Linked DNA regions of Homo sapiens: region 2 is linked to region 1. Evidence: fine-mapped expression QTL. A gene starts in region 1. The other region holds a variant in brackets. All regions are shown on one strand. Distances are from middle to middle.

The links. PIP is the estimated chance that this variant, and not a neighbour inherited with it, causes the effect. A credible set is the group of variants that fine-mapping cannot tell apart.
Region 2: its variant is the best candidate, but not a certain one, in a credible set for the expression of AMOTL1 in blood mononuclear cells (TOPMed, PIP 0.64).

The regions. Positions count from the first base shown.
Region 1 is chr11:94,765,570-94,770,948 of GRCh38, forward strand. It overlaps AMOTL1 (angiomotin like 1), which reads left to right and starts at 2,787. Exons shown (of 13, transcript NM_130847.3): 1 at 2,787-2,991. The coding sequence starts at 2,943.
Region 2 is chr11:94,726,072-94,731,450 of GRCh38, forward strand. The region is part of intron 1 of PIWIL4-AS1 (PIWIL4 antisense RNA 1); the gene reads right to left. It also overlaps a transcript of AMOTL1 not described here. Among named protein-coding and RNA genes, the nearest start is that of PIWIL4-AS1, 12 kb to the right of the region's middle. The variant C/T (reference allele first, on the strand shown) is at 3,074.

The DNA of each region.
Region 1 (5,379 bases):
TTCCATGTATCTGATTACTGGGTATTAATTTGAGGAGTCTAGGCTAGGTCCACCTGATTGAATCAGAAGATCCTTGAACCCACAAGCTGTGCCTAGCACTTCATTGCAGGTCTAAGAATCTGTAGCATTTGATAGAAGGACCCACTTCTTAAAACTTCCTCTGGCTTCCATGCCTTTACCTTTTCCCAGCTCTTCTACTTCTCCAGATTCTTCCTCTTCTCCCTCCTTCTTTCCCTGTTTTCCAGTTGTGGACATTCTGTTAATGAACTGATCTTCAAAGCTTCATCTCTCCTTTTCTCTACACCTCTGTCCTCCACTTCTCACCCAGTCCCTTGTTCCTTGTTTCCTCTTGCCCAGAGGATAGTAAGTCACTCAGCATCTTTCTCAAACCGTTTCCTCTTCTCAACTGTGCTTCATCTGTCATTGGTCTAATGATCCATTCTTCTAAGACTGCAAGATCTATTCTTCCTATGACTGGGCTCAAAGCCTAGGTTAACTTGATTACTTTGTCCTTTTCCCCAGGATAAACAACGAGTCAATGAGAAGAATAAAATCTTGCTTCAAAGATTTGATACCTTTCTTTATGACATCTGGTATCTCCAAAGATATGGTATCTCTCATTTCCTTTTTATCACCTCTGTCAACCTCACCTATCATTGCTTCCTGCAACTATCCTAGATAGTCTCTTGAAATAATAATAGCAAATGTATATTGAATACTACATGCATTGTGCTGAGTATTTTACATTTGTTATTTTATTCAGTCTTCACAACCACTCTGTGAGATGCTATTTTCTTCATCTTGCCAAAAAGGATACTGAGGTTTAGAGAAGTTAGGCAACTTGCTCAGCGTCACACAGATACTGAATGGTGGAGCTGCAACTCAGCTCATGCCTGTTTTGTTCTAAACTTGATGGTTGTAACTTGGAAATTTTGCTGCTTCCTAGACTATAGGATGGTATCTAGGAGTGGGCAATTAGTAAAGATTAGTTTCCTTTCTTCTTTTTCTATCCATCACTTCTTCCCCAATTTGTATTAAATTCGCGCAAATGTTAGGTGAATCAGTGGTCCCTTCACTGTCCATAAGATAACCACTTCAGCTCCTAATTTGCGATTCAGGGTTCACAATGTGTAATACAAGGCACATTGAGGCAGAGGTTGTTTCTATACCTGGCTTTGCTACTAAACTTGTTCTGTAACATTGGACAAGTCATTCAACAGCTATGCCTGAGCTTCTTCATCCGGCAAGTGAAAGGTTTAGTTGACACTTTCTTAGATTCTTTCCAGGCCTACATTTTTGTGACGTTGTTATTCTGCCTTCCCTTGTTTTCTCCTCGTTTCTGGTAAAAACGCTTTCCTCTATGCCTTCTTCCCAAGCACCCAGACCTTGTCATCTCCCTCTTGGCTTTTGCCTCTGCTTGCCCAGTGCTGCCTTTTCCTCTTTCTGCTGTGTCTGAACTCCACCACCCTCCCAGGCTTTTCCTTCTGTGTAGTCAGTGCCTCTCTCCGCCCTTCCCAGGCATCTGCAGTACTTGGATCTCCTGCTTTGTTGCTTGCCTGTTTTCTGTTCACACATCTTGTCTTCTTAGACAGATAACAGATCCTTGAAGGGCTGGTCAGCTGCTCTAAGTTTCTTTTGTGTGCTAAGTTTCTTTTGTGTGTACCAGGGTAGATGACTTTAAATGGAGTAGGCATTTCATAAATAATTGTTAAATGATTACATTTGGGCTTTATCTTGAGAGCAGAGTTTACTCAGTAGGAGGGCCCATCAGGGGAATCAGAATCAGGACATGCAACCCACCAGAACTGATGAGAGGTAAAACTGCTGGCAGTCTAGTTAGGGAACTGCCACAATCCAGGGAGGAGTCCCTGAAGGCCGGACCTAGATAGCAGGTAAACAGAGGCAGGGAGCACCAGATAAGAGAGGCTTGGTGTGCGCTAACTCTCCCACTAACATCCTGGGCAGCAACTGTACAGTTACCTAGCTTTCTCTTCTCCAAGCAGTAGAGCTGCCCGGAAAAAGCCAGGCAGAAGTGCTATGGGGCAGGCTCGGGCACCCCAGATTAGGGCTCCAGAGAGCCGCCAGTATAAACCAATATAATGAGGTGGATGAGTAGTTCTCAGCACAGCCTGATTTTAAGAGGTGGGGCAACATTTTCCCAGAGTCGCTTACTTTCTTTACCTCTACTCAGGCAGATAACAGCCTGGGGATTTATGGCCAGAGGATGTACGGTTCTGCGAACACATTTAATATCCGAGGCTGTCAGGTCTGTTTTGGCCCTTCTGTTTGTCAACGGAGCACATAGTAGCAGCTTATCGCCCAATCTCAAGTGCGTGATGGAAGCACTGGGGCCTGGGGAATGCTGAGAAAAGTGTGGCCACTTTCTACCTGGAAATTCCACTTAAGAAGAAAAAAAACCAACCTAAGCAAATCTAGACTTTTGGGCAGATCCGGAAACAGAATTTTGGCCGGCATTGGGCTGGTGGGGAAGGAAGACAAAGTGGAGGGAGAACTGGTGAGTCTGAAATTAATCAAAACCCGGCAGGGGACAAAGGAAGGGATGCTGTCGCCCTCCTAAGTCTCAGGGAGACACGTCAGCTTGAGCTCTGGGCAATTTCAGCCTGGCAGTCTCGCGGCCCGGGGAGGGGCGGCGGGTGTCTGCAGACGGGCTCTAGGGCCCAGCGGCCGGGCGCCACGGCGGGGGTGGAGTGTAGGGTTCTAGTGACGAGCCCGGGCGACCCTCCCCGGCCCGCGCGCGGGGAGCGGGGAGCGCGGACGGCGGCGGGAGCGCGCGAGAAGCTCTAGGACCCAGCAGCGGTTGTCGGGTTTGGGGCTGGAGGTGAAGCCCTGTGTGAATGGGGTTGATTGTCCGGCGCCACTTCCCCGCGCTGCCCGGCAGCCGTCTTCCCCAGCCGAGGGACTGAACTAGCCATGATCGCCTCATGTGGAGGGCAAAGTTGCGCCGGGGAACTTGTGAGCCTGCGGTGAAAGGTAACCAGCCCCCACTCGAGGTGCCGGGAGGGCGTCTCCGAGTCTCCCACGCGAAGAACCCAGTCGCCCCGGGCTCCCCGGGCCCCTGCTGCTCACGGAAGGGGGCAGCTTCTGGGGGCCCGGGGCTGAGATCCCAGATTGTTGTTTTTAAGCGGGTTCCCTTGCCCCGCTCCAGGTCCAGTTGCCTGCGGGCCGGGCCTCAGCGTCTTGCCGCCCCGCGACCCACGTTGACTGAAGTTGTGGCCCCGGGGTTTGGGCCCCGGGGTGCTGCGCGCCCGACGCGGGGCTGGCCTTTCCTGAGGGGCGCAGCCATATGGCCAGACACTCCGAGGCGCGCCCGCGCCCGCGCGCGGGTCTCGCGGCGAGGGAGGGGACGGAAGGGGGTGTCCGGTGCAGCTTTCCCCGGCGCGAGACAAAGGCGCGCGCACCGGCCCGCCCGACGGGCTCTGGCGCTGTGGACTGGACCCTTTCTGCCCGCCGGCCAGACCCGGCTCTGGCGGGTGGGGGCGACGAAAGGGTCGCACCCCAGCCCCAGACGCTCGGATCGCGTTAGCTGCTGCTCCTTCTTTGTTCTCTCCCCAGACAAGTTTCTTTGACAAACTGGAGAGTTACATCCAGCTCCCGCTTGCCTGTTAGGGCTGCCTTTACAATAATCTGCTTTCGCGGGGAGAAAATTTAAACTTTCCAAATGGAACTGTTTTTTCTTGGAATGTGACATTTGTGGCAGGAGGGAGAGTGGTACGTTGGCCGATGACAGCCGAGCGGAACGGTGGCCTAGTGCCGGGACAGGGACCGAGCGTGCCCCATAGGCGGCCGGGCTGGAGGACGCGGCGGCAGAGCAGACGAGCCCTGGCGCGCACCTCTAGGGCCTCCGCTACCTGGACTGCGCTCGCGGCGACGTGTCCAAGTTTCCCCCCTCAGAGCCCCAGGCCGAGAATCCCGGGTATCTGCGCAAAGCTCCCGCGCCTCGCCCACCCTACTCTTCCTATCTTTACTGATGACTAGGAAGACTTTCCTTTTCCATTTTTGTTCGAAGATTTTTGCCTTTTTGGCTTCGGTGTTGGTTTCCTGTCTCCGCGTGGCAAATACCTTTTGGCCGGGCTAGCGTGTGGATCACCTGGACTGGGGTTTCAGAGGTGGGCCCTGAGCGTGCGGCCTCCTGAGACGATGCGGTTTGGACCCAACATTTTGTCCCCATGGTCCCTCAGCTCCCTTTCTCTGTGAGGCCTTGGTTTCCCATTTTCTTCTCCTGAGGCATGTTATGAGAACTGAGTTTTTGTACTGCTTATAGAAGGCCTTGGTGGTGGTGGGGTACGTGGTCTCGAGAGCCAGTTGTGATACCTCGAAGATGCTTTCGGCTAACCAAAGCAGTAACGTGCTAACCTGCTCACCATAAACGAATTAAACCAGAATAGAGGGCTATTAATAGCTACAGTTCCAGAAAATTTCCTTCCTTTTCGGGAAGCAAAAAGTCAAGGCTTGAAATATTAAACAATCATGGCTCCCTGCTTCCAAAACTGGCCTATGGGTCACTGCCAAACTGGCTAAGATTTCCCCTGGCTGCATACCACTCCTGGGCCCGGGCAGCTGTGGAAGTCAGACCCAGGTTAACGATTAAGGAGCTCTCTAGATTGCAAGGTCTTAAAGAATCTAGAGCAACTGACATTTACTTCCTAGTAAGGTGCTCTGAGCCTTATAGTGTGTATCTACTTTGAAGGCTCTTTATGAGAATAATGTGGGAACAGTAGTTTAATATACTTTGAACTGTTAGTAAAGGGTGGAAAAGCACTGATTTGACTAGAATGAAGGAAAACACCGATTCGACCAGAATGAAAAGGGTAGGACATAGGTAGAAGGCTTTATACAGGCTCTACTTTTCCTTATGATGGTGGTGGGGGTTGGGGGGAGGGATGAGGATGTTTAGTTCTTGGAGTGCACTTTTGTTTTTCTGTGATGCATTTTTCAAGATAAATAAGGAAACCTTTGTAAACCTGCAGGTGGATAGGAGAGAAGGTGCTGTACCTGTAACGCCCCTTTCCCTCCCCCTTCTTTTTAAAATGCACAGAAGTCTTGGTCTTTCAGGTTCTTTGCAGATGATGGAGGATGTAGCATACTAATTTTCCAAAGGGCATGTGGAGATCAAAGCATTTAAAAATACATCTTTTCACGGAGGCTAATGGAGGATTTTCAGTTTAAATGAGATTTTAAAGTGCTGTCGTTAAGAAAAACACATGAATGCAGAAATGTGAGTGATTTTATGGGAAAGCACTCCGCTGATCAGACTTGAGAGTGTCTGCCCTGGGCCAGTTAGTCTAGAGGCTGTTGTGGGTAGAGCTCAGCTTTTCTGATGTCTACCCCTAAGGAAAAGTGTGGACCCAGGGCCTAGGG
Region 2 (5,379 bases), 39 kb before region 1:
GAATGAACAAAGCATAGTGATCAGTTGGATGTGAGATGTAATAAGTCAAGGATGGCCAAGTTTCTGGCTTGGGCAGCTGGGTAGATGGACCCATAAAAGAAGAGGCTGTGTCAGTTTCAGGAGAGTTCTGGTCTACGGGTTTTAACAGGAGAGTTAAACCTTCTTAAATCCAAAGGTCCATTCTGCTGGTCTGTCTCACACCACTCTATCGGTGTACACAAATCTCCTTTGAGAGCTTTATGAGATCTAATACCTAGGTAGAGTCTTCACCCACACTGGGCATTTATTCATCCATTCAATCAACCAATATTTATGAAGTGCCAATTATGTATTCATAGTATTCCAGTATTCCATAGACCCCAATGTCCATCTATGCAGGTAGCTTAGTTCTAAAAAAGTGATTCTCAAAGCCAGAATTACATCTGTAAGTTTTTGATGGTCTTTCCCATTCACCCACCCCAACTTATCAGGCATATTAGTATTTGTGCTGTCATTAGAAAGTATTTCTTCACTTCCTGTTTCCATGGTTGCATTATGTTTTTCATTAAATTCTCAAGGTTGCATTACATTTTAGTTTCTTCTTCATGGACTTTGTCTATGGCAGGGTTTAGACTTGGATGGAGGTTAAATACCCAATAGAAATTCTTTAGTAAGTTATTTTATATGGCCTGAGGCCTGAAAACTCTTTTCTAGGCTCCAGAATCTCCTGAGCAACTCTGGGGCTTCCTGTGGCTAAAGGGAGGTGTTGGAATTTCAGTAACAGGTGTGATGGATCAAAACCTTCCTCAAAATACATGTGTTTGATGCCATTTCATTTTACATTTAGTGCTTGGTTTTCCCAAGCTGAAGTGAAATTCAAGCATCAGAGAAACCAGCAGGGGTTGCAGGTTGAAGTTAATAAAACACTCACCATGGGCCTATGTAGTTCAGATTAATAAAATAAAATCATGGATGTGAGAGCCTAACCTCACACATCCATATCATCTTGCAAATCTGTTTCCTGGAAGCCAGAGGGTACCTAGGCCACTGGGCCAAGAGAGATGGGAATCTTCTTTGAAAACCACTCTTTGGTTAATCACTAAAGCCTATTTTTGTCAAACAAAGCTCTTGGAGTCTCTACTTCACTTCCCAAAGATACTGCAAAGATTAATGAAGTGATTTTGAATTACCTGTTGTAAATAAGTGTTGCTTTTTAAGGATGTAGTATTATTGTTAATACTATTTAATAATCAGCAAAGATATAAAATGTTGGATATTTACTTCAGTTGATTAAATGATGATACCAGTGTGATTATGGCCCAATATTGGATTTCTACTCCAGACATGTTTTTAGTTTTGCACAGAGAACGTGTCTGGTTCAATGGCAGACTACTTCTAGCCTCAATCAGCCACCTCTTGTGTGCTGATGTCTCAGTTGGCTAACGGATAAATAATGCAGCTTCCTCAATCCACTGACATGGGTGGATAGGTAGCCTTTGTATACAAAAGCATATTATTATAGGCTGCAAGTCTGGGAGGCCTGAAGAGGTCTTTGCAAGAGGAAATTAAGCCCAGAGAAAGTAACTGGTTTGCCCAAAGTCATCCAGTTAGTGCAGAGTCAGGGCTAAAATCTGGATTTATTGATAAGTCTAACGTTCTCACTATTACACTGTGCCATATTCACTCTGGTCTAGAACTCCCTTCCAAAATTTTTGGGTAATTGGATTCAACACAAATTGCTAGAGAAGCAGTACCCAATAAAGTGCACTACATTCTTTGGTACTTCCTAGTATTTTATTAGATATTGTTATTTGTTTGGTGCATCTCCCATAAGTATCATATTTTTCCAGGCAGATAGCCAAAAAGCAACAAGTCAATCTACCATGTCTGCAGTCTGGCAGGCAATGCAGGAACCCGCAGGGCAACTCTGAACAGCATTCTAGAGACCAAATTAAGCCAGCTGGGCTGACTACAGCAAATGATGATTGGTGCCTATCCTAATTAGGCTGACAGGACTTCTACTGTGTGGATGTCCCACTTGCTGCATTCACAGATGTGATGAATCAGTCATGTTCAATTACTCAATCACTTTCATTTGAGAACCTGCTACATGCAGAGCGTTATCAAGATCTCTTTGTAATATGGGCAAGAGTTTGGCCATGAGTTGTAATCAGCCCAGGTACAGTTTGCATATAGAGAGATTCTTCAGGCTGGCCTTCTCAGTGGTGGCCAATGGAGTGGGAATGATCTTTTTACGAAAGCCAAGAGCCCTTGTAACTGTGCCTTTCTATTATAGTTTTCAAAAGGAAAAGGAAAATTGGTCTCCATGGTCCCTCTTGGCTCTGAAGTGTTCTTTTAAAATAATATTTATTGCATACCTTTTTGAGATTACAAAAGCAATACATGTTCATTGTTGAAAATGCAGAAAATTACAAGGAAGATAAAAAGTAGTCATAATTCTAATACAATGAAAACTGCTTCTAACTTATTAGTTCAAGTTTTTTTAGTCATTTTTTAGGCAAATAGAAGAGTGTGTATCTTTTAAATAAAATTGAGATCCCACTATATCCTGCCCTGAAATTCTAGGAGTCTATAAACTATGCACAACTAAATAGTAAATTTCTTGCTCAAAGCCTGGCATACAATAGTCATTCCACAAATATTTGTTAACTGAATGGTGAGGAAAACCTGGTTTGTGGGCTTGAGCAACTTCACACTCAGGCCATACCCAAATCTAGACAACGAGCTTTGTGTGCCAAAGGAATGAAATGAGCTAGAAACTGACCACTTTCCTTCAAGAAAGCTTCTCTTCACAAAGAGAACATCAGTGGTAATTCAAATCCCTTTTTTATATTCATTATTTATTTCAGGAGATTGCTTCCATTTGATCTGAAAGCTATACATACAAGGGGCTAGAAGCATGGACCTCAGTGAAAAATGGACTTTGGAGGAAGGAGCCTGGTTATCCCATGCTGGAATTCATCATTTTGCCAGCACCAGAGCGGGTAAGGCCGTTTTTGATGTCCCTGATAGCATGGTACTCTTCAGCTTCTGCACCTCATTATGTCAATCCACTGTACTCAGTACGTGCCCA[C/T]GCTGTTTGTCTTTTCAAAAGCAGCTGAGTGGAGAGGAGAGGGAATGGACTTTGAAGTCAGACAGACCTGGGTTCAGATACCGAATTCACTATTTACAAGTTTTATGGCCTTGAGAAAATCTGTCATTCCCTGGGCTCTAACATGAGAGTAAGAATGCCCACTTTGCAGTGTTATGATGAGGACCATCAGCTGTCATGTAATGAGCTCTTGCCCTGGCCAGGTGGGAAGCTGGTCAGACATCTTTGAGCACCTAACATGTGTTAGGCACTCTGTTCCTGTTTTGCTCATTTCTCCTCTCAGCAGCCTGTAAACATTCAAGTTGAGGATAAAGCAACCAATATAAACAGAGTAGGCCAGCTCTTTCCCTTCTTTATGATTATCCAATTAATGTGACTCAGCATTAAATGATGGAGATATTGTTACTTTCCTGGAGCAGAGCATACAAATATAAGAACCATACCCTGACACAGAGCTGTGGTCCTCTGTCAGGTCTAAGAGTCCGCTCCCTCCTCCATCCCTCAAATCTGATAGAGACCTACTTTGATGGTAGGAGCCATTCTATAGATGGACGATGAAAGGTTGTTGAGGTTAATGCACTCACAGATGTTTTCACAAGGATATGTCTCCCATTTGTTTGTTGTTTATTCATTTATTCAACAAATATTATTGAGTATCTATTTTATGCCAAGCACTAGTAATACAAGAACGAGAGCAAGATAGACATAGAGAACAACAGACTATACTCTCTGATGTGCCCACCTCTAAAACAGGGTAACTTATATGGCAACAAACATTTGCAGACCTTCTGCACTACACCAGGGTATGTCTTCCAACCAAGACTGCTTCACACAATGAGATAGTCGCCAAAGGGAAGACAGGAAGCTTTGAGAGAGGAAATTTGGATGCATTCCACCCAAAAACCAACTGTCATTTGTTCCTGTGCACTGTCATACTGTCATTCCAGCCTCTTTTTAGAAGTTCTTAAGCCAGCATCTCTTCACACCCCATGGAAAAAAACTAAACCTCCCTAGTTCAACACACAGCCCTTCCAGATCTGACCTCTGCCTGCCCCTCTAGATTCATCTCCTGCTGCCCATCACTAATAGCAACCCCCTCCTTCTCACTGTATCAGCCTCTTCCTGGATCCCTGAATACATCCTGCCCTCACATGCCTGTGAACCTTTGCAAAGGCTGCTATTATCATCTCTCTTCCACTTGGCCAGTTCCTACTCATCTTTGAAGCTTCTGCTTAAGTCATCTGTTCTGGGATCTCTTCCTGCCACCACCTCCTACCAACCCCCATCCTGGTCTGAAGGAGAGTCTCTCCTCCCTCCTCAGTGCTGCCATAGCCTCTGCAGATTCCCATGTCACAGCACGTATCATCACACTGTATTGTGCTTGCCTGAATCCTGAACAGCCTGTGTGCTTCTTGAGACAGATGCCTTGTTTTATTCATCTTTGTACCCCTTTCACTGTTGCATGGCAAATTCATGGTGTATATTTGATGGCTGGCTGGCTGTGTGGCTGGATGAATGAATGAATGAATGAATGACAGTTGGGACCACATCCTCTGAATATCTCTGCCTTCATTGAAAACCTTTTTTGGCTGTGGGAACCTATCTGATTATACAACTGCTTCTGGCACCACCACATCACTTCACCTTGCTTTCAGCACACCTATAGCATTTGATTCAATGACCCTAGGCTTGTTACCAAAGCCTAAAGGCAGAGGAGAGAAAGAAAGTGTGGTTTTCCCACTGATGCTTGGTGCTTTTGTAACCTAGGCAATAGAATCATCCACCAGAGAATTTTAGAACTGAAAGAAGCCTTAGGGATCACTGTAACAAAGGGGTGGCTAAAAACTCCATACTGTGACCATCTCCAAGCTCTGTCTTATCCTTCTGTGAGTTTACCATGTCATCTATCTGCAATCTTTGGGGCAAGGCTGGAACATAGGAAGGGAAGCCAGACCTGTGTCTAGGTTTGCCTAAAGAGAAGGTACTGCTTTTGGGTAAGTGACGAGCTTCTGGGGCTGAGGGAAAAGCTTAGTTCTGGTAGGCAACAGATACCATAATATCTGGTTCCAGTTCAGATAATCAGTCTATATCCTGCAAATATGAAGGCATCCAAGACAAAGCAGGGCAGTGTTGTGGTGAAGTGGGTGAAGCACAGTCACCCACTGTCAGTGGGTGAAGCACAGACACAAGGAATCAGTGTGGCTGAAATCTGTAAATCCTTGTGGGCAGCTGATACTAAGGTGGTTCTCAGAGGCCTGGGATGAGATCCAAGAAAGGTGCAGGTCCTC